Linked DNA regions of Homo sapiens. The protein of the gene in region 1 interacts with the protein of each later gene in a pairwise test. Each region holds a gene or a part of one and is shown in the gene's direction. Other genes may lie near its edges.

What was found.
Region 2: the proteins of NEXN (region 1) and FAM107A interact in a two-hybrid assay, tested with the Homo sapiens proteins (one study listed by BioGRID).
Region 3: the proteins of NEXN (region 1) and FXR2 interact in binary tests that used the Homo sapiens proteins (3 or more experiments, as listed by UniProt).
Region 4: the proteins of NEXN (region 1) and TRIM15 interact in a protein complementation assay, tested with the Homo sapiens proteins (one large-scale study listed by BioGRID).
Region 5: the proteins of NEXN (region 1) and ZNF250 interact in binary tests that used the Homo sapiens proteins (3 or more experiments, as listed by UniProt).

The regions. Positions count from the first base shown.
Region 1 is NC_000001.11:77,895,107-77,898,623, forward strand, and holds part of NEXN (nexilin), read left to right. Parts: intron 1-3,517. UniProt on the Homo sapiens protein: Involved in regulating cell migration through association with the actin cytoskeleton. Has an essential role in the maintenance of Z line and sarcomere integrity.
Region 2 is NC_000003.12:58,563,617-58,567,408, reverse strand, and holds the end of FAM107A (actin-associated protein FAM107A), read left to right. Parts: intron 1-44; coding exon 45-201; intron 202-713; coding exon 714-821; 3' UTR 822-3,292; downstream 3,293-3,792. UniProt on the Homo sapiens protein: Stress-inducible actin-binding protein that plays a role in synaptic and cognitive functions by modulating actin filamentous (F-actin) dynamics. Mediates polymerization of globular actin to F-actin. Also binds to, stabilizes and bundles F-actin.
Region 3 is NC_000017.11:7,597,892-7,601,408, reverse strand, and holds part of FXR2 (RNA-binding protein FXR2), read left to right. Parts: intron 1-3,517. UniProt on the Homo sapiens protein: mRNA-binding protein that acts as a regulator of mRNAs translation and/or stability, and which is required for adult hippocampal neurogenesis. Specifically binds to AU-rich elements (AREs) in the 3'-UTR of target mRNAs.
Region 4 is NC_000006.12:30,162,337-30,166,348, forward strand, and holds the start of TRIM15 (E3 ubiquitin-protein ligase TRIM15), read left to right. Parts: upstream 1-1,209; 5' UTR 1,210-1,265; coding exon of another isoform or gene 1,266-1,267; 5' UTR 1,268-1,348; coding exon 1,349-1,729; intron 1,730-4,012.
Region 5 is NC_000008.11:144,891,451-144,894,967, reverse strand, and holds part of ZNF250 (zinc finger protein 250), read left to right. Parts: intron 1-3,517. UniProt on the Homo sapiens protein: May be involved in transcriptional regulation.

The DNA.
Region 1 (3,517 bases):
CAATCTCAGCTCACTGCAAACTCCGCCTCCCAGATTCACACCATTCTCCTGCCTCAGCCTCCCGAGTAGCTGGGACTACAGGCACCCGCCACCATGATTGGCTAATTTTTTTGTATTTTTAGTAGAGATGGGGTTTCGCCGTGTTAGCCAGGATGGTCTCGATCTCCTGACCTCTTGATCCGCCCGCCTTGGCCTCTGAAAGTGCTGGGATTACAGGCATGAGCCACCGCGCCCGGTCACCTATAGTGTAATTTTTAAAGTATAAGGTTGCAACCTTCATTAATTAAATGCAATAAAGTTACATTATACCTAAGTTTATGTTTCCTGTACAAGTGAAAAATGATAAAAATTTAGGCTCATATTTTATGAAGCTCAAAACAATTTTGTTGCTTGTTCCAAAGACTGTAAGAATTAGGTTTCAACATTTACTTGTAGCATATAGTTAAGTATTACGTTTAAAATCTTCTTAAAAGTTGGCTGGGCACTGTGGCTCACGCCTGTAATTCCAGCACTTTGGGGGTGCAAGGCAGGCGGATCTCTTGAGGCCAGGAGTTAGAGATCAGTCTGGTCAACATGGTGAAACCCCATCTCTGCTAAAAAATACAAAAATTAGCCGGGTGTGGTAGTGCACACCTGTAATCCCAGCTACTTAGGAGGCTGAGGCATGAGAATCACTTGAACCTGGGAGGTGGAGGTTGCAGTGAGCTGAGATAGTGCCATTGCACTCCAGCCTGGGCGACAGAGCAAGACTCCATCTCAAAAAAGAAATCTTAAAAGTTGACAGCCTGGTTGGGCACAGTGGCTCACATCTGTAATCCCAGCACTTTGGTAGGCTTAGGTGAGCAGATCACTTGAGGTCAGGAGTTGGAGACCAGCTTGGCCAACATGGTGAAACCCTGTCTGTACTAAAAAAAATTAGCCAGGTGTGGTTGCATGTGCCTGTAATCCCAGCTATTCGGGAGGCTGAGGCAGGAGAATTGCTTGAACCCAGGAGGCAAAGGTTGCAGTGAGCAGAAATGACACCACTGCTCTCCAGCTTGGGTGACACAGTGAGACTTTGTCTCAATAAATAAATAAATAAATAAATAAATAAGTTGTCGGCCAAGCACAGTGACTCAGAAACTGAGCTCATTTTCTGACTTAAACATGCCTTTTAATTTAATCTCCAGTTAATGGTAACCCTGTTCACCCATTTGCTCAAACTAGAAACCTTGGGTTCATCCTTTTTTATTTACTTGTTTGTTTGTTTATTTCTCATCCTCTGACTCTTGCTTGGGTTCATTCTTGACAATATTCCTCTCCTCACCTCTACCCCTCCAAATCAAATTGGCCAAACCTCTTGCAATTGTGCCCCACTACAGTGTAAGTTCCATCAAGAAGGCTGGGCATGGTGGCTCACACCTGTAATCCCAGCACTTTGGGAGCCCGAGGCGGGTGGAGCTCAGGAGTTCAAGGCCAGCCTGGCCAATATGGTGAAACCCCATCCCTACTAAAAATACAAAAATTAGCTGAGTGTGGTGGCAGACAGTTGTAATCCCAGCTACTCGGGAGGCTGAGGCACAGAACTGCTTGAACCTGGGAGGCAGAGGTTGCAGTGAGCTGAGATTGCACCACTGCACTCCAGCCTGGGTGACAGAGCAAGACTCTGTCTAATTAAAAAAAAAAAAATTTAGAAAAGAGAGAAGAATCAAATAGATGCAATAAAAAATGATAAAGGGGATATCACCACCGATCCCACAGAAATACAAACTACCATCAGAGAATACTACAAACACCTCTACGCAAATAAACTAGAAAATCTAGAAGAAATGGATAAATTCCTCAACACATACACCCTCCCAAGACTAAACCAGGAAGAAGTTGAATCTCTGAATAGACCAATAACAGGCTCTGAAGTTGTGGCAATAATCAATAGCTTACCAACCAAAAAAAGTCCAGGACCAGATGGATTCACAGCCGAATTCTACCGAGGTACAAAGAAGAGCTGGTACCATTCCTTCTGAAACTATTCCAATCAATAGGAAAAGAGGGACTCCTCTCTAACTCATTTTATGAGGCCAGCATCATCCTGATACCAAAGCCTGGCAGAGACACAACCAAAAAAGAGAATTTTAGACCAATATCCTTGATGAACATTGATGCAAAAATCCTCAATAAAATACTGGCAAACTGAATCCAGCAGCACATCAAAAAGCTTATCCACCATGATCAAGTGGGCTTCATCCCTGGGATGTGAGGCTGGTTCAATATACGCAAATCAATAAATGTAATCCAGCATATAAACAGAACCAAAGACAAAAACCACATGATTATTTCAATAGATGCAGAAAAGGCCTTTGACAAAATTCAACAATGCTTCATGCTAAAAACTCTCAATAAATTAGGTATTGATGGGATGTATCTCAAAATAATAAGAGCTATCTATGACAAACCCACAGCCAATATCATACTGAATGGACAAAAACTGGAAGCATTCCCTTTGAAAACTGGCACAAGACAGGGATGCCCTCTCTCACCACTCCTATTCAACATAGTGTTGGAAGTTCTGGCCAGGGCAATTAGGCAGGAGAAGGAAATAAAGGGTATTCAATTAGGAAAAGAGAAAGTCAAATTGTCCCTGTTTGCAGATGACATGATTGTATATGTAGAAAACCCCACTGTCTCAGCCCAAAATCTCCTTAAGCTGATAAGCAACTTCAGCAAAGTCTCAGGATACAAAATCAATGTGCAAAAATCACAAGCATTCTTATACACCAATAACAGACAAACAGAGAGCCAAATCATGAGTGAACTCCCATTCACAATTGCTTCAAAGAGAATAAAATACCTAGGAATCCAACTTACAAGGGAAGTGAAGGACCTCTTCAAGGAGAACTACAAACCACTGCTCAATGAAATAAAAGAGGATACAAACAAATGGAAGAACATTCCATGCTCATGCATAGGAAGAATCAATATCATGAAAATGGCCATACTGCCCAAGGTAATTTATAGATTCAATGCCATCCCCATCAAGCTACCAATGACTTTCTTCACGGAATTGGAAAAAACTACTTTAAAGTTCATATGGAACCAAAAAAGAACCCGCATCACCAAGCCAATCCTAAGCCAAAAGAACAAAGCTGGAGGCATCACGCTACCTGACTTCAAACTATACTACAAGGCTACAGTAACCAAAACAGCACGGTACTGGTACCAAAACAGAGATATAGATCAATGGAACAGGACAGAGCCCTCAGAAATAATGCCACATATCTACAACTATCTGATCTTTGACAAACCTGAGAAAAACAAGCAATGGGGAAAGGATTCCCTATTTAATAAATGGTGCTGGGAAAACTGGCTAGCCATATGTAGAAAGCTGAAACTGGATCCCTTCCTTATACCTTGTAGAAAAATTAATTCAAGATGGATTAAATACTTAAATGTTAGACCTAAAAGCATAAAAACCCTAGAAGAAAACCTAGGCAATACCATTCAGGACACAGGCATGGGCAAGGACTTCATGTCTAAAACA
Region 2 (3,792 bases), on another chromosome or scaffold:
GGGAAGGTGATGGTCTCCTGACAGCTCCCCACTTCCCACCCCAGGGGCCTTGGTGTGGACAGCAAGCCAGAGCTGCAGCGTGTCCTAGAGCACCGCCGGCGGAACCAGCTCATCAAGAAGAAGAAGGAGGAGCTGGAAGCCAAGCGGCTGCAGTGCCCCTTTGAGCAGGAGCTGCTGAGACGGCAGCAGAGGCTGAACCAGGTGGGTGATGGGCACCCAGCAGGGACCACGCATCCTCCAGGGCTGTCCTCCAGGGAGGAGCTCTGCTGTGGCCACAGCTAGTAAGAGGGAAGAGGATCAGCAGACAGAGCACTGGACTAAGAGTCCACTCCTGGCCTGAGTCCTCCCTCTGCCATTCACTTTGCTAGGTCCTTAGGGCGAGTGGCTTCCCTGAACCTCAGCTTCCTCACTGGCCCAGTGTACTGCATGCTGATTCTGATTTCATTCTTATAACTGTCTTGTGAGCCAGGTGGCATTCCCATTTTAGAGATGGGGAAGCTGAGGCCCAGAGGGGGTGAGTGATTTGAACCAGGCTGCACAAGGAGAACTCAGTCTCATGCTCTGTGCCCCAGCTACCAGGCTGATAGCAAAACTCATCCCCAGGTTGGTTCTGTTTCCCCACTGAGTGGGCCCTTGGTCCAAACTCCACAGGTTTTCAGAGTAGGAATCCCCCTAGCTCCACCCACTTCACTCTCTGCTTCTCCCTCCTTCAGCTGGAAAAACCACCAGAGAAGGAAGAGGATCACGCCCCCGAGTTTATTAAAGTCAGGGAAAACCTGCGGAGAATTGCCACACTGACCAGCGAAGAGAGAGAGCTGTAGGGCCAGCTGCCGGGCTCAGGCCACTGCCCACCCTGGCCTGGACAGCCTCCTTCAGCCCTTCTGTACCTGGCAGCCCTGGGCCCCAGGCCCTGGGACGTCTGTGATGTTCCCACCTGCTTCTGTAGAAATGTGTCACCCCAGAGGGCCTGGCTCTCCCTGGGAGGCTGGGGCCCCTAAGCTCCTAGGTTTTCCTTCCAAGCACCCAGCCCTCCTGCTCCAAGAGGGATAACCTGCACCCCTCCCTGCAAGGGGTTCAGAGCCCAGCACAGGAGCTTTCTCTGGCAGAATTGAGGAGGAAGAGGTGGCCCTCTGACTTGACAAGCCTTCTGTTCTGCCCAGGCCTTCCCACCAGGAATCTCCGAGGCTCCCCAGGGCCCCGCTTCTCCGTACACCCCAGCTCCTAGGTCTCAGAGAACTCCCCCACCTGTGGTTTTACCTGCAGCCAGCAGAGCTTAGCTTCAAGGACACCTGCCTTCAAAGCCACTGAGGGGAGGAAGGGCAGGGCAGACTGCAGATGGCCTTGTTGCTGGCATCCCGGCCAGGTGGGCGGGGACTAACAAAGACAGCTGTTTAGGGTCTTCTCCCCTCACCCATGCTTTCATCATCCCCTCCGCACAGCCTCCCCGTCCAGGCCTTCTAACCACACCTACCCAGGGCTGCCGCATTCCTGCACTCAGAAGTCTGCAGCGGTGCCTCACAAACTTGATTGTGCATAAAAATCACTGGGGATCTTGTTAATACAGCTTCTAACTCAATAGATCTGGGAGATCCTGCATTTCTAACAAGCTCCCAGGTAAGGCGGAGGCTGCTGGTGTGAGGACCATGCTGTGAGCAGCAGGGCGAGAGTGCCCAGGGCTGATATATATTGGAAATATCACCCCTGAAGCCATCGCTGGCCCCCACCTCCTGTGGACTGATGCCCCAGGGATTCCCACCCCACTTCTGCAACCCCAGGTATCCTTCATTATCCACCCCATCCCAGACTCCCACCCCAGGGATTGCCCGTGAAGACTTTGGCCTAGCAAATTGTGTTGGTTATGTGAGTGTTGTTTTAATCAGAGATGTACATGATTGCCAATCTGCATTTCTTACCAGTGTGACCACACTGTTACGATGCAATTCTAGCCAAAAAAAAAAAAAAAAAAAAAAAAATTTTTTTTTTTTACTTTTTCCTAGTCTTATGGAAAGCAAATATACAATGATTTTCAGTAGGCTTCTGGAATAGAAACAGTGGTTTGAAGACCCCACTGCCACCTTTATGGACTGGCCCCTTTGAGTCTGAATCCCCGGCCTCTGTCACCTGAGACCCAACCCCTAGCTGGGCCAACTCCAGTGAATTCACCCATTTTTCTTCTTCAGAAGGCCTTTCCTGTGTGAGACCCACATATTTTAACCTTTTGCTCCTATCCCATTTTTAAAGAATTAGAGAATAAACCAGGCCTGTTTCTTTTCCCCTGAAATCCCTGCCTCTGGCTTCCTAAACCCATCATCTAAGGTGACAGAGCAGTGCTGGAATAGCATCTCCTTTCACTTTCCCAAAACTGCCACAGATAGCTGCCACTGGCATGCTCTTTGATTCCTGGAAGCAAACGTGGGACTGTCGGAGGAAAGGGATTGTTCTGGTCTTACTCATAACTGGGTGGTTTGAGGGTGACTGAAGTCGTGCTTTTCCTGTGTGTGCTGCCAGCACAGGGCTGTAAATGCAGATATTGCGCCTGTGTGCGTGTGTATAAGTCAAGCTCCAAGAGGCTCCTGAATGTGACTGGCGTGCTGAGAATGTGTTTACGCTGTTTAATGTCTGCCAGGTGAGGGTTACACTGAAGATGCACAATCCCTAAAATAAAGATCACCACTTCCCCAAAGAAGCAGCCCTCGGGTCCATGTGTTGTTCAGACATGTGAAGAGAAGCAAGACAGAGGGTCTCAGATGGACGAGGGCTCTCCAAGGGAATGCCTGGGGATTCACCCAGTGGTCCCCAGAGGTGCTCCATGGAGGCAACAAGTCATTCCATGAAGCCCCAGAGGTAGAAGGGACCTCAAGCACCACGCCCTCCAGGGCAGCCGTGCAGACGACCTTGGTTCACTTTTCAGGGGTCGTCCCAACTCTGTATCTCCAGCCACTCCAACTGTGGAGGCTGTAAATCCAGATTTTCACTGTTCCAGTCTCCTTTGCAGCTTAGGATGGCTATGTGATCAGGTGTGGCCAATGAAATTGAAGAGGAAGTCTACCTGGGCTTCTGGGAAAGCTTTTCCAATAAAAGACACAGGCATGGCTAACACCTCCCTGGGCCTCTTCTTCCTACCTTGATTGAGGGTGTGATGCCTGGAGCCACAGCAGCCACTTTGCTACCATGACAAAAAGGCCAAGAGAATCACAGAGTCATTGACCCTATCATTATTTCACCAAGCCAATACCAGCCGCCATCCTTCTCCAGAATTCTTGTAAATAAAATAAATCCCTCTTTGTTTAAACCATTGTTGGTCAGTCTCTGTTACTTGCAACCAAAATCATCCCTAACTGACACAGAAGGCCAGTCCCTGCCTGTCCAAAATTACCTGCAGGCTGTGCTAAAAATCCAGATTCAACTTTCCCATCAGAAGCCTATTGGATCAGGATCCCCAGCTGCAATGCCTGGGATCTGTTTTTCTGCACCTTCCCCATATAGCCTACCTAGCATGAGTCTGAAAACTGGTACTTGGACATGACTAAAGCACACATCATTCAACAAATATTTATCGAGTTCCTGCTCCATGCCAGGATGCATGCCATAGGCTGGGACACAGTAGAGAACAAAGGTGCAGTGCCTCCCCCTCATCTGATGACTGCAGTGGTCTCCTCCCAACTGGTCTCCCCTACTGGCCTTGTCCCTACACCCTGTTCTCAACAGAGGAGCCAAAATGATCTTCCTCCAGTCTAAGGCAGAACTTGCGACTCTGCACAGAGCCCTCCCTGGGCTCCCAGTGGAGTCTCT
Region 3 (3,517 bases), on another chromosome or scaffold:
GTAACTTTTAGCTCCTTTTCCTTCTGCTGAAGGGTATTGTCTTCCTCCCTTCCTACCCTGTCCTCCATCCATGATCTTGTGTTTACAGAACAAAGACTAAGGCTTTTTCTGGGCAATTAAACCTGGGTCAGCTATTTTATCTCAGACTCCTCCAGATGGCAGAGCTCTATCATGGTATAGTGCAATTATTTTCAAATTTCTTTTAGCCAATTTTTTTTTTTTTTTTTTGGGAGACAGAGTCTCGCTGTGTCGCCTAGGCTGGAGTGCAATGACACGATCTCGGCTCACTGCAACCCCTGCCTCCTGTGTTTAAGCGATTCTCATGCCTCAGCCTTCTGAGTAGCTGGGATTACAGGCGTGCGCCACCACACCCGGCTAAGTTTTGTATTATTAGTAAGATGGGGTTTTGCCATGTTGCCCAAGCTGGCCTCGAACTCCTGGCCTCATGTGATCCACCCGCCTCAGCCTCCCAAAGTGCTGGGATTACAGGCGTGAGCCACCACACCTGGCTGAATGGTTTTTTTTGAGACGGAGTCTCACTTTGTCACCCAGGCTGTAGTGTAATGGTATAGTCTCAGCTGACTGCAACATCCACCTTCTGGGTTCAAGCGATTCTCCCGCCTCAGCCTCCTGAGTAGCTGGGACTACAGGCTTGTGCCACCACACCCAGCTCATTTTTGTATTTTTAGTATTGATGGGGTTTCACCATGTTGACCAGGCTGGTCTCAAACTCCTGACCTCATGATCCACCTGCCTCGGCCTCCCAAAGTGCTGGGATTACAGACATGAGCCGCTGCGCCCGGCCTTGGTCTTGAACTTCTAGGCTCAAGAGATCCATCTGCCTGTACTTTGCAAAGTGCTAGGATTACAGGTGTGAGCCACCACATGCAGCCTAGACTAGAATATTTATTTTTTAGGGTGGGCGCGGTGGCTCACGCCTTTAATCGCAGCACTTTAGCACTTTGGGAGGCCGAGGCAGGCAGATCAATCCGAGGTTGGGAGTCGAGACTGGTGAAACCCCATCTTTACTAAGAAGACAAAAATCAGCTGGGCGTGGTGGCACATGCCTGTAATTTCAGCTACTCGAGAGACTGAGGCAGGAGAATCGCTTGAACCTGGGAAGTGGAGGTTGCAGTGAGCCAAGATTGCGCCATTGCACTTCAGCCTGGGTGACAAGAGTGAAACTCTGTCTCAAAGAAAAAAAGGATATGACTGGGCGCGGTGGCCCACGTCTGTAATCCCAGCACTTTGGGAGGCTGAGGCGGGCAGATCACCTGAGGTCGGGAGTTCAAGACCAGCCTGGCCAACATGGGTGAAACCCCGTCTCTACTAAAACTACAAAAATTAGCCAGGCGTGGTGGCAGGCGCCTGTTGTCCCAGCTACTCGGGAGGCTGAGGCAGGAGAATCGCTTGAACCTGGGAGGCGGAGGTTGCAGTGAGCCGAGATCACACCATTGTACTCCAGCCTGGGCAACAAGAGTGAAACTCCATCTCAAAGAAAAAAAGGATATTTCTTGTTTTTTTGTTTGTTTTTTGAGATAGCGTCTCTGTCGCCCAGGCTAGAGCGCAGTGGCGCTATCTTGGCTTACTGCAACCTCCACCTCCCAGATTGAAGCGATTCTCCTGCCTCAGCCTCCCAAGTAGCTGGGATTACAGGTGTGTGCCATCACACCTGGCTAATTTTTGTCTTTTTTAGTAGAGATGGGGTTTCACCATGTTGGCCAGGCTGATCTCAAACTATGGACCTCAGGTGATCCGCCCACCTCGACCTCCCAAAATGTTGGGATTACAGGTGTCAGCCACCACGCCTGGCCTGACTAGAGTATTTCTGTGAGATCTTTTTGAATTCTGACATCGTATAATTGTCAGATTCCCTTTCGTTGGTATTATACTATTCTAAGTGAATAGGGTGTGTGTGTTTGAATACCATTTCCATTTATCAAGGGAATTGATCTTTTTGGGAGGCTTTTTTCTGTGCCTGTGCAATTTCTGGGTCATGATAATCTTTGACTTCTTCAGGGATCCTGCTCAGGGCACTGGCAGGTAAAAATTCACCATTACCTTCAGATGATACAAACTTTATTTTTTGTTTTTGTTTTTTGTTTTGAGATGGAGTCTCAGTCTGTTATCCAGGCTGGAGTGTATGTAGTGGTGCGATCTCAGCTCACTGCAGTCTCTACCCCCCGAGCTCAAGTGATCCTCTCACCTCAGCCTTTGGGTGGGTGGGATTACAGGTGCATGCCACCATACCTGGCTATTTTTTTTTTTTTTTTGGAGACAGTTTCCCTCTGTCACCCAGGCTGGAGTGCAATGGCACAATCTCCGCTCCCTGCAACCTCTCGCTCCTGGGTTCAAGCGATTCTTGTGCCTCGGCCTCCCAGGTAGCTGGGATAATAGGCACGCGCCCCCACGTCTGGATAATTTTTGCTTTTTTAGTGTTTCACCATGTTGCCCAGGCTGGTTTTGAACTCCCGACCGCAGGTGATCCACCTGCCTTGGCCTCCCAAAGTACTGGGATTACAGGCATGAGCCACTATACCTGGCCCTAATTTCAGTATTTTTAGTAGAGACGGAGTTTCACCATGTTGGCTAGGCTGGTCGCGAACCCCTGGCCTCAAGGGATCCACTTGCCTTGGCCTCCCAAAGTGCTGGGATTATAGACATGACCCATTGCACCCGGCCTAATTTTTGTTGTTGTTTTTTAATTTTTTGAGACGGAGTCTCATTCTGTCGTCCAGGCTGGAGTGCAGTAGTGCGATCTCAGCTCACTGCAGCTTGTGTAGTTAGCGCAGAGTGAGCAAAGGGAGACCGATACAAAATTCGGTCAGAGAGTAGATCATGTAAGACATGTACGGTAGGCTGAGGAGGGGGGATTTTATTGTGCGTATACTGAGAAGCCATTGAGTTAACAGTGCCTTCTGGTTTTTTGTTTTGTTTTGTTTTGTTTTGTTTTTGAGACGGAGTCTCGCTCTGTCACCCAGGCTGGAGTGCATTGGCGTGATCTCGGCTCACTGCAAGCTCCACCTCCCAAGTTCACGCCATTCTCCTGCCTCAGCCTCACGAGAAGCTGGGACTACAGGCGCCTGCCACCACGCCCGGCTGATTTTTTTGTATTTTTTTTTAGTAGAGATGGGGTTTCACCGTGTTAGCCAGGATGGTCTTGATCTCCTGACCTCGTGATCCACCCACCTCGGCCTCCCAAAGTGCTGGGATTACAGGCGAGAGCCACTGTGCCCGGCCGAAAGTGCCTTCTGTTTTAAACTCCTGTTTCAATGACAGATGGAAAGGGGGGCAAGAATGGAAGCAGGAACAGAGCACAGTAGTCCAGGTGAGAAACTTGAACTGGAGTGCTAAAGGAAGAGAGAGAGAGTAGTTTTATGTAGGATAAATTTTACGAGTAAAACCAGTAGGACTGACAGGCTCTGTGATACTGAGAGATACATATTTGGTCTCCTGACCAGGCTCCTGGCATTCAACTTCTAAAATCCTTGGAATCTCCAGTGATGTGTGTTTTTGT
Region 4 (4,012 bases), on another chromosome or scaffold:
TGTATTTTACATATACAGCATGCCGCCATTCAGACCGGCCACATTTCAGTGCTCAGTAGACACATGTGGCTGGTGGCTCCTGTATTGGACAAACTAGTTCCTGGGCTGCACTCGTGGCAGGAAGAGCAGAGATTGGATGGGAAGGGGAGGTAATAAAGTGATTAGAGTAAAAAGGGAGCAACCACAAGGGGCTAGGCTGATCACCCAGTGGGAGAATGGGGGAAGGCCTGGTTTTATCCACAGATGTGTGCATGGGTGAAGGACCGTGGCTGCAGATCTTGGTCTTGGCATGAGGTGTGGGAGGAGCGTAGGGCTTTAAGCCAGGAGACTGGGATCGTCCTTAACGTGATACTTTCTAGCTTTGTGACCTTTGGAAAGTCACTTTACATTTGGAAAGTCAGTTTACATTTCTTTCTCTGTAAAATGAAGGTAATAATGTTTGCCTAGAGGGTTATTAAAATTGAATGTAGTAATATAAAAATACTAAACCCTAGATAAATGTGGTTGAAACTGATTATCTGACTAATCGTTTTCTAATGTGTATCAACATAAATCATTTGCATTATGGTTTCTTGCCTTCTCCCCGCTACAGTAAAAATAAATAAATAAATAAATAAATAAATAAATAAATAAATAAATAAAATAGTCCAGTGTTACCCGAACCCCAAAGGGGACTGTTGTGCCAGGTGGTGGGGGATTTGGGACCGTAGGAGGGGCCACCATGGGCAGATGTGGTGAGGGAGGAAAGGAGAGCAGAAGAGGGGACCCGATGAGCAATCCTTACACCCTACCTGCAGTGTCGAAACAGCGTCCCGCCCACACACTTCCGGCAGAATCTCCCGAAGTCCACACCTCTCACTCCAGCCTGGACTTTGATGCTGTGGGCACGCCTCAGAGCCAGAAGTTTATGGCTCCCACCTGCTCAATCTGACAGGAAGCTTCTGCTCCCCAGTTCTCCCCAGCCACTGTGGTCTACAGATTCCAGGAAACCCATCCCCCTGTGACCTCATGGTGTGCTCTGTTCTCCACCCTAGGGACCAGAAGGAGCCAGGAGTAAAGAACTGGCTTACTTGGCCGCCACTGGGAAATTCTGGGTAATTCGAGACGCCCTGGAATTTGGACCCACTCCGCTGATAGGTGGTGGCCAGGGTTCTAGGGAACACAAGAGGCGGAGCCAGGTGGCTTCCCTGTGCTGGCATTCTTGCCTCTCTCTCTCTTTCTCTCTCTCTGTCTCTTAGCCTTGCAGCCGTTTCCCTCTGCGATTCATGTAAGTGTGACTCGATTTCAGGGAAAGGGAACTCGCGTGGGCTGAGGAGACCGGAGTGGACGGGCTGGGGAAGGCACCGTGATGCCCGCAACCCCGTCCCTGAAGGTGGTCCATGAGCTGCCTGCCTGTACCCTCTGTGCGGGGCCGCTGGAGGATGCGGTGACCATTCCCTGTGGACACACCTTCTGCCGGCTCTGCCTCCCCGCGCTCTCCCAGATGGGGGCCCAATCCTCGGGCAAGATCCTGCTCTGCCCGCTCTGCCAAGAGGAGGAGCAGGCAGAGACTCCCATGGCCCCTGTGCCCCTGGGCCCGCTGGGAGAAACTTACTGCGAGGAGCACGGCGAGAAGATCTACTTCTTCTGCGAGAACGATGCCGAGTTCCTCTGTGTGTTCTGCAGGGAGGGTCCCACGCACCAGGCGCACACCGTGGGGTTCCTGGACGAGGCCATTCAGCCCTACCGGGTAAGAAGTGTAGCTTTACCTAGGGCCTGTTTGGGGCAGGATGATGTCCTGTTATGAGGGGAGGAAATCGGGCGGGGATCTGGATGAAAGGCTTCCACATCAGGGAACCCTAAGGTTACAGGGACTTTCGAGGCATTCCCAGACTGAAGGCAGATAGGGCTCCACTTGGATGTGTGGTAGTTCCTGGTCTGGGGGGAACTTCAGCTCCAGCTCTCAGAGGACCCCACAGAGGTGGAGTGCAAAGAACTGTAGCCTTGGCTTCACTCACTATGGAAAGAAAGCTCCAATGCCGAGTGGGATCTTCTGCAGATTATGGGCAGGGTAAACTTGTTCTCCCAGGATCCAGACTGGAAATGGGGTTTATAGGGCCCTGACTGCCAGGGCGCAGAGGGGAGGGAGGAGCTGGGAAGGGGAACCTGCTAGCACTGCTCTTCTTCTTGAGAAAGGGAGGGTGGCAGTAGTCCAGAATTGTGAGAATTCCCCATCTGGCCTTGGGGCACTTTCCTGTCAGCCTCTCAGATCTCTCTCTTGTCATCCAGTCACCAGGTCTGGAAGTGGTTACCTTAGAAACATCTCCCAAATCTTTAATTCTGCCTTATCCTCACAGCCAGGTTCTCCCTATCTCTTGCGCAGACTTTGCAGTCTCCATGGCATTTCCTGTCTCCATTCTCACCCTTTCCAGTCACCTTCCAATCTGCTGGGAGACAGATCCTCCTAAAACACAAAGTCACTCATCTGCACAAAATCCTCCCATGTATACCTAGTGCCCAAAGAAAGTCCAAGGTCTTTAGCAAGACATTCAAGGCCCTTTGCAGTCGGGATCCTTCCTCCCTGTCCGGCCTCATCGCTCAGCCTCCCTCCTCAAGGCACCACGTGTCTGGCCAGACTGAGCTGCACTTGCTGTTTTTTCCTGAGTTGTCTTATTCATTCCTGCTTCCAATACTTTTTGCACATAGTCTCTTCCTCCTAGAATACTCTTCTCCCTTCCTCCCACCTCTCTCTCTGTTTTTAAGTATACAATTCAGGGGCACTAAGTCCTTTTCTTTTTTTTTTTATTATACATGTTCTGGGATACATATGCAGAACGTGCAGGTTTGTTACATAGGTATATACGTGCCATGGTGGTTTGCTGCACCCATCAATCCATCATCTACATTAGGTATTTCTCCTAATGCTATCCCTCCCCTAGTCCCCCAAGCCCTGACAGGCCCCGATGTGTGATGTTCCCCTCCCTGTGTCCATGTGTTCTCATTGTTCACCTCCCACTTATGAGTAAGAACATGTGGTGTTTGGTTTTCTGTTCCTGTGTTAGTTTGCTGAGAATGATGGTTTCCAGCTTCATCCATATCCCTGCAAAGGACATGAACACATCTTTTTTATGCCTGCATAGTATTCCATGGCATATATGTGCCATATTTTCTTTATCCAGTCTATCATTGATGGACATTTGGGTTGGTTCCAAGTCTTTGCTATTGTGAACAGTGCTGCAATAAACATATGTGTGCATGTGTCTTTACAGTAGGATAATTTATAATCCTCTGGGTATATACCCAGTAATGGGATTGCCAGGTCAAATGGTATTTCTCATTCTAGATTCTTGAGGAGTTGCCACACTGTCTTCCACAACGGTTGAACTAATTTACACTCCCACCAACATTGTAAAAGCATTCTTATTTCTCCACATCATCTCCAGCATCTGTTATTTCCTGACTTTTTAATGATCACCATTCTAACTGGTGTGAGATGGTATCTCATTGTGGTTTTGATTTGCATTTCTCTAATGACCAGTGATGATGAGCTTCTTTTCATAGGTTTGTTGGCCACATAAATGTCTTCTTTTGAGAAGTGTCTGTTCATATCCTTCACCTACTTTTTGATGGGGCTGTTTGTTTTTTTCTTGTAAATTTGTTTAAGTTCTTTGTAGATTTTGGATATTAGCCCTTTGTCAGATGGATAGATTGCAAAATGTTTCTCCCATTCTGTAGGTTGCCTGTTCACTCTGATGATAGTTTCTTTTGCTGTGCAGAAGCTCTTTCATTTAATTAGATACCATTTGTCAATTTAGGCTTTTGTTGCCATTGCTTTTGGTGTTCTAGTCATGAAGTCTTTGCCCATGCCTATGTCCTGAATGGTATTGCCTAGGTTTTCTTCTAGGGTTTTTATGGTTTTAGGTCTTACGTTTAAGTCTTTAATCCATCTTGAGTTAATTTTTATTTCAGGTGTAAGGAAGGGGTCCAGTTTCAGTTTTCTGCATATGGCTAGCCAGTTTTCCCAACACCATTT
Region 5 (3,517 bases), on another chromosome or scaffold:
ACAGGCCGGGTGTGGTGTTCTCAGGCCTGTAATCTTGACACTTTCGGAGGCCAAGGAGGGAGGATCCCTTGAGCCTAGGAGTTCAAGACCAGTCTGGGCAACACAGCAAGACCTCGTCTCTACCAAAAAAAAAAAATTAAGAAATTATCCAGGCATGGTGGTGCAACCTGTATTCCTAGCTACTTGGGATGCTGAAGTGGGAGGATCACCTGAGCCCAGGAGTTGGAGGCTGCATTGAGCTGTGATTGAGCCACTGTACTCCAGCCTGGACTACAAAGTGAGACCCCGTCTCTAAGAAATTAATTAAAAGTTTAAAAAAGTACATTGCCTGGCAATTTGTAATCATTAGCCTAGAAGTAATTAAAAAAAAAAAAAAAAGGTCGACCACTGATTACTCTGTTGGGCCTGCTTCTTGGTCTGCTGGTGCAGGAGAAAGGGATAGGATGAGAGCTGGGTGAGGCCAGGGCTGCTGCGGTGGGTGGGGCAGAGGTCTCTAAGAGTTGGATGGGGAGCACAGGCCAAGGGATAAAGGGCTGCAGGGCTCTGAGGAAAATCACAAAGTTTGGGGCATGCCCATAGGAGCCAGTGGGGTCCTGGGAGGACCTTGGAGCAGAGGACAGTCACTGTGTTCTCACAGGAAGGTAGATGGAGGGGCTGGGCAGACAGACGGTGCTGGGAGTCTGTCTGCCCAGATGGGAGCTGCCGAACATCTAGGGGTGGTTGTCATGGGGCAGGGAGGGCGAGATGGGCAACATGGTCAGGTTCTGGATGTGCTTGGAAGGTGAATAGAAGTGTGGGAGTGAAGAAGGAAGGAGGCTGATGCACAGGCTCACAGACCAAGCTGGGGGTAGAAATGATGGTAGAGGGGGTGCTTGGTTTGGGATGTTAAATGTCTGAGATGCTATGAGACACCCATATTGAAAGGTTGAGTCAGAGGGAAGGGGGATCACGAGCTCAAGTGTACCAAAAGAGCTACTGGGCTCAACTGACTTTTCAGACTCACAGGACAACCATGCCTAGCAGCAGCTTCTCGGAAAAGCTGGCCAGCATCATCCAGCAGCCATCCAGGGAGTACTGAGGTGCATAAACACAAGATGCAGGTAGGAGGAGGAGTTAGCCTAGTCGAAAGCCTCGTGGTCATACAAGCCAGCACCTCCTGTGTCAAGAGAACTGGCTGCAAGACCTGCTAGGGAGGCCCTGAATGTACTTCCTGTGGTTGTTCATCATTGAGTCACAGCCCAGGTGTGATTGGTCCGTAGAGAGAATGACCATCCACCTCTGCCAGGTTTCCAGGGGACCAGAGCTGTGCATTCACCCAAGGTCAAATTCGCATGCAGGGCTAGGCGCAGTGACTCAAGCCTGTAATTCCAGCACTCTAGGAGGCCAAGAGGGGCATATCACTTGAGCTCAGGGGTTCGAGACCAGCCTGGGCAACATGGTGAAACCCCGTACCTACAAAAAGTACAAAAATTAGCCGGGCATGGAGGCAGGTGTCTGTAGTCCCAGCTACTCAGGAGGCTAAGGTAGGAGGATCGCTTGAGCCTGGGAGACGGAGGTTGCAGTGAGCCTAGATCATGCCACTGCACTCCAGCCTGGGTGACAGAGCGAGATTCTGTTTCAAAATAAAGAAATGGCAGATCTGTGCGCTGGTGGGTGACCCATGGAAAGGGTCAGGGTGTGGCAGGAGAGAAGGCACTTCTGCCCTTGAGGGTAGGCAGATGTCAGACAGGGGGACCAGGAGCACATGAGGCCACTGTTAATGCTCACACTTGGTCTTCATCTTAATCCAAAATTGGTTATTGTTGGGCTGGGCGTGGTGGCTCATGCCTGTAATCCCAGCACTTTGGGAGGCCAAGGCGGGTGGATCACCTGAGGTCGGGAGTTCGAGACCAGCCTGACCAAGATGGTGAAAACCCATCTCTACTAAAAATATTTAAAAAATTAGCCGAGCGTGCTGGTGGGTGCTTGTAATCCCAGCTACTCGGGAGGCTGAGGCAGGAGAATTGCTTGAACCTGGGAGGCAGGGGTTGCGGTGAGCCAAGATCACCCCATTGCATCCCAGCCTGGGTGACAGAGCAAGACTTCGTCTCAAAAAAAAAAAAAAATTGGTGGCTGGACACGGTGGCTCACGCCTGTAATCCCAGCACTTTGGGAGGCCAAGGCGGGCGGATCACCTGAGGTCGGGAGTTCAAGACCAGCCTGACCAACATGGAGAAACCCTGTCCCTACTAAAAATACAAAAAAAATTAGCTGGGCATGGTGGCGCATGCCTGTAATCCCAGCTACTTGGGAGGCTGAGACAGGAGAATCACTTGAACCCAGGAGGTGGAGGTTGCGGTGAGCCGAGATCTCGCCGTTGCATTCCAGCCTGGGCAACAAGAGTGAAACTCTGTCTCAAAAAAAAAAACAAACAAAAAAATTGGTTATTGATGTATCCCATCTGGGTACACACAAGTTACTAAAGGAACCACTGATTTCCTGCTGAACTAAAATGTAACATTTTTGTTATCTTCCAATTTCCCACATACCTGTCTGGCTTCATCTGTTCCTCTGTCAACAACTTGTTGGTTTAATTGCAGCGGCTTCCTACCCACCCTTGGCTCTGATTCCTGGCAAGGCAGTCCCCACCCTCTGTTCTTTCCAGTTAAATTCTTGGCTATTCTCTAGCATCCATTCTTCTTATGAATTCTCAAGTAGTTGTAGTCATTCCTTTAAAAGACTTCTGTTGGAATTCTAATTAGAGTTGCATTGCGCTAACACAGAAGTGTGCTCACACACACATTTGGAGGGAATGGGCATTTTTGGAGAACAGCAGCACGGGGGAGGGTTGAAAGTCAGTCTCTCTCCAACTGTGTTTCCCTGTCCTGTTCTTCAGAGGCAGGCAGTTAGTTTATTGTGTATCTTCCTGAAAGTTGTCTGTGCAAATATATACATGTATCTGATGTGTGTTTTTTTTGTTTTGTTTTGAGACAGAGTCTCAGCTGAGATGATCTCAGCTCACTGCAACCTCCACATCCTGGGTTCAAGTGATTCTCCTGCCTTAGCCTCCTGAGTAGTTGGGATTACAGGCACCCGCCACCACACCCAGCTGATTTTTGTTTTTGTTTTTGTTTTGAGATGGAGTTTTGCTCTTGGTTGCCCAGGCTGGAGTGCAATGGCATGATCTCGGCTCATCGCATCCTCCACCTCCTGAGTTCAAGCAATTCTCTTGCCTCAGCCTCCTGAGTAGCTGGGACTACAGGCGTGCACCACCACACCCGGCTAATTTTGTGTTTTTAGTAGAGACGGGGTTTCCCCATGTTGGTCATGGCTGGTCTCGAACTCCCAACCTCGGGTGATCCGCCTGCCTCGGCCTCCCAAAGTGCTGGGATTACAGGCATAAGCCACTGCACCCGGCCTGATTTTTGTATTTTTAGTAGAGACGGGGTTTCACCATGTTGGCCAGGCTGGTCTCAAACTCCTGACCTCCGGTGATGTGCCTGCCTCACCCTCCCAAAGTGCTGAGATTACAGGTATG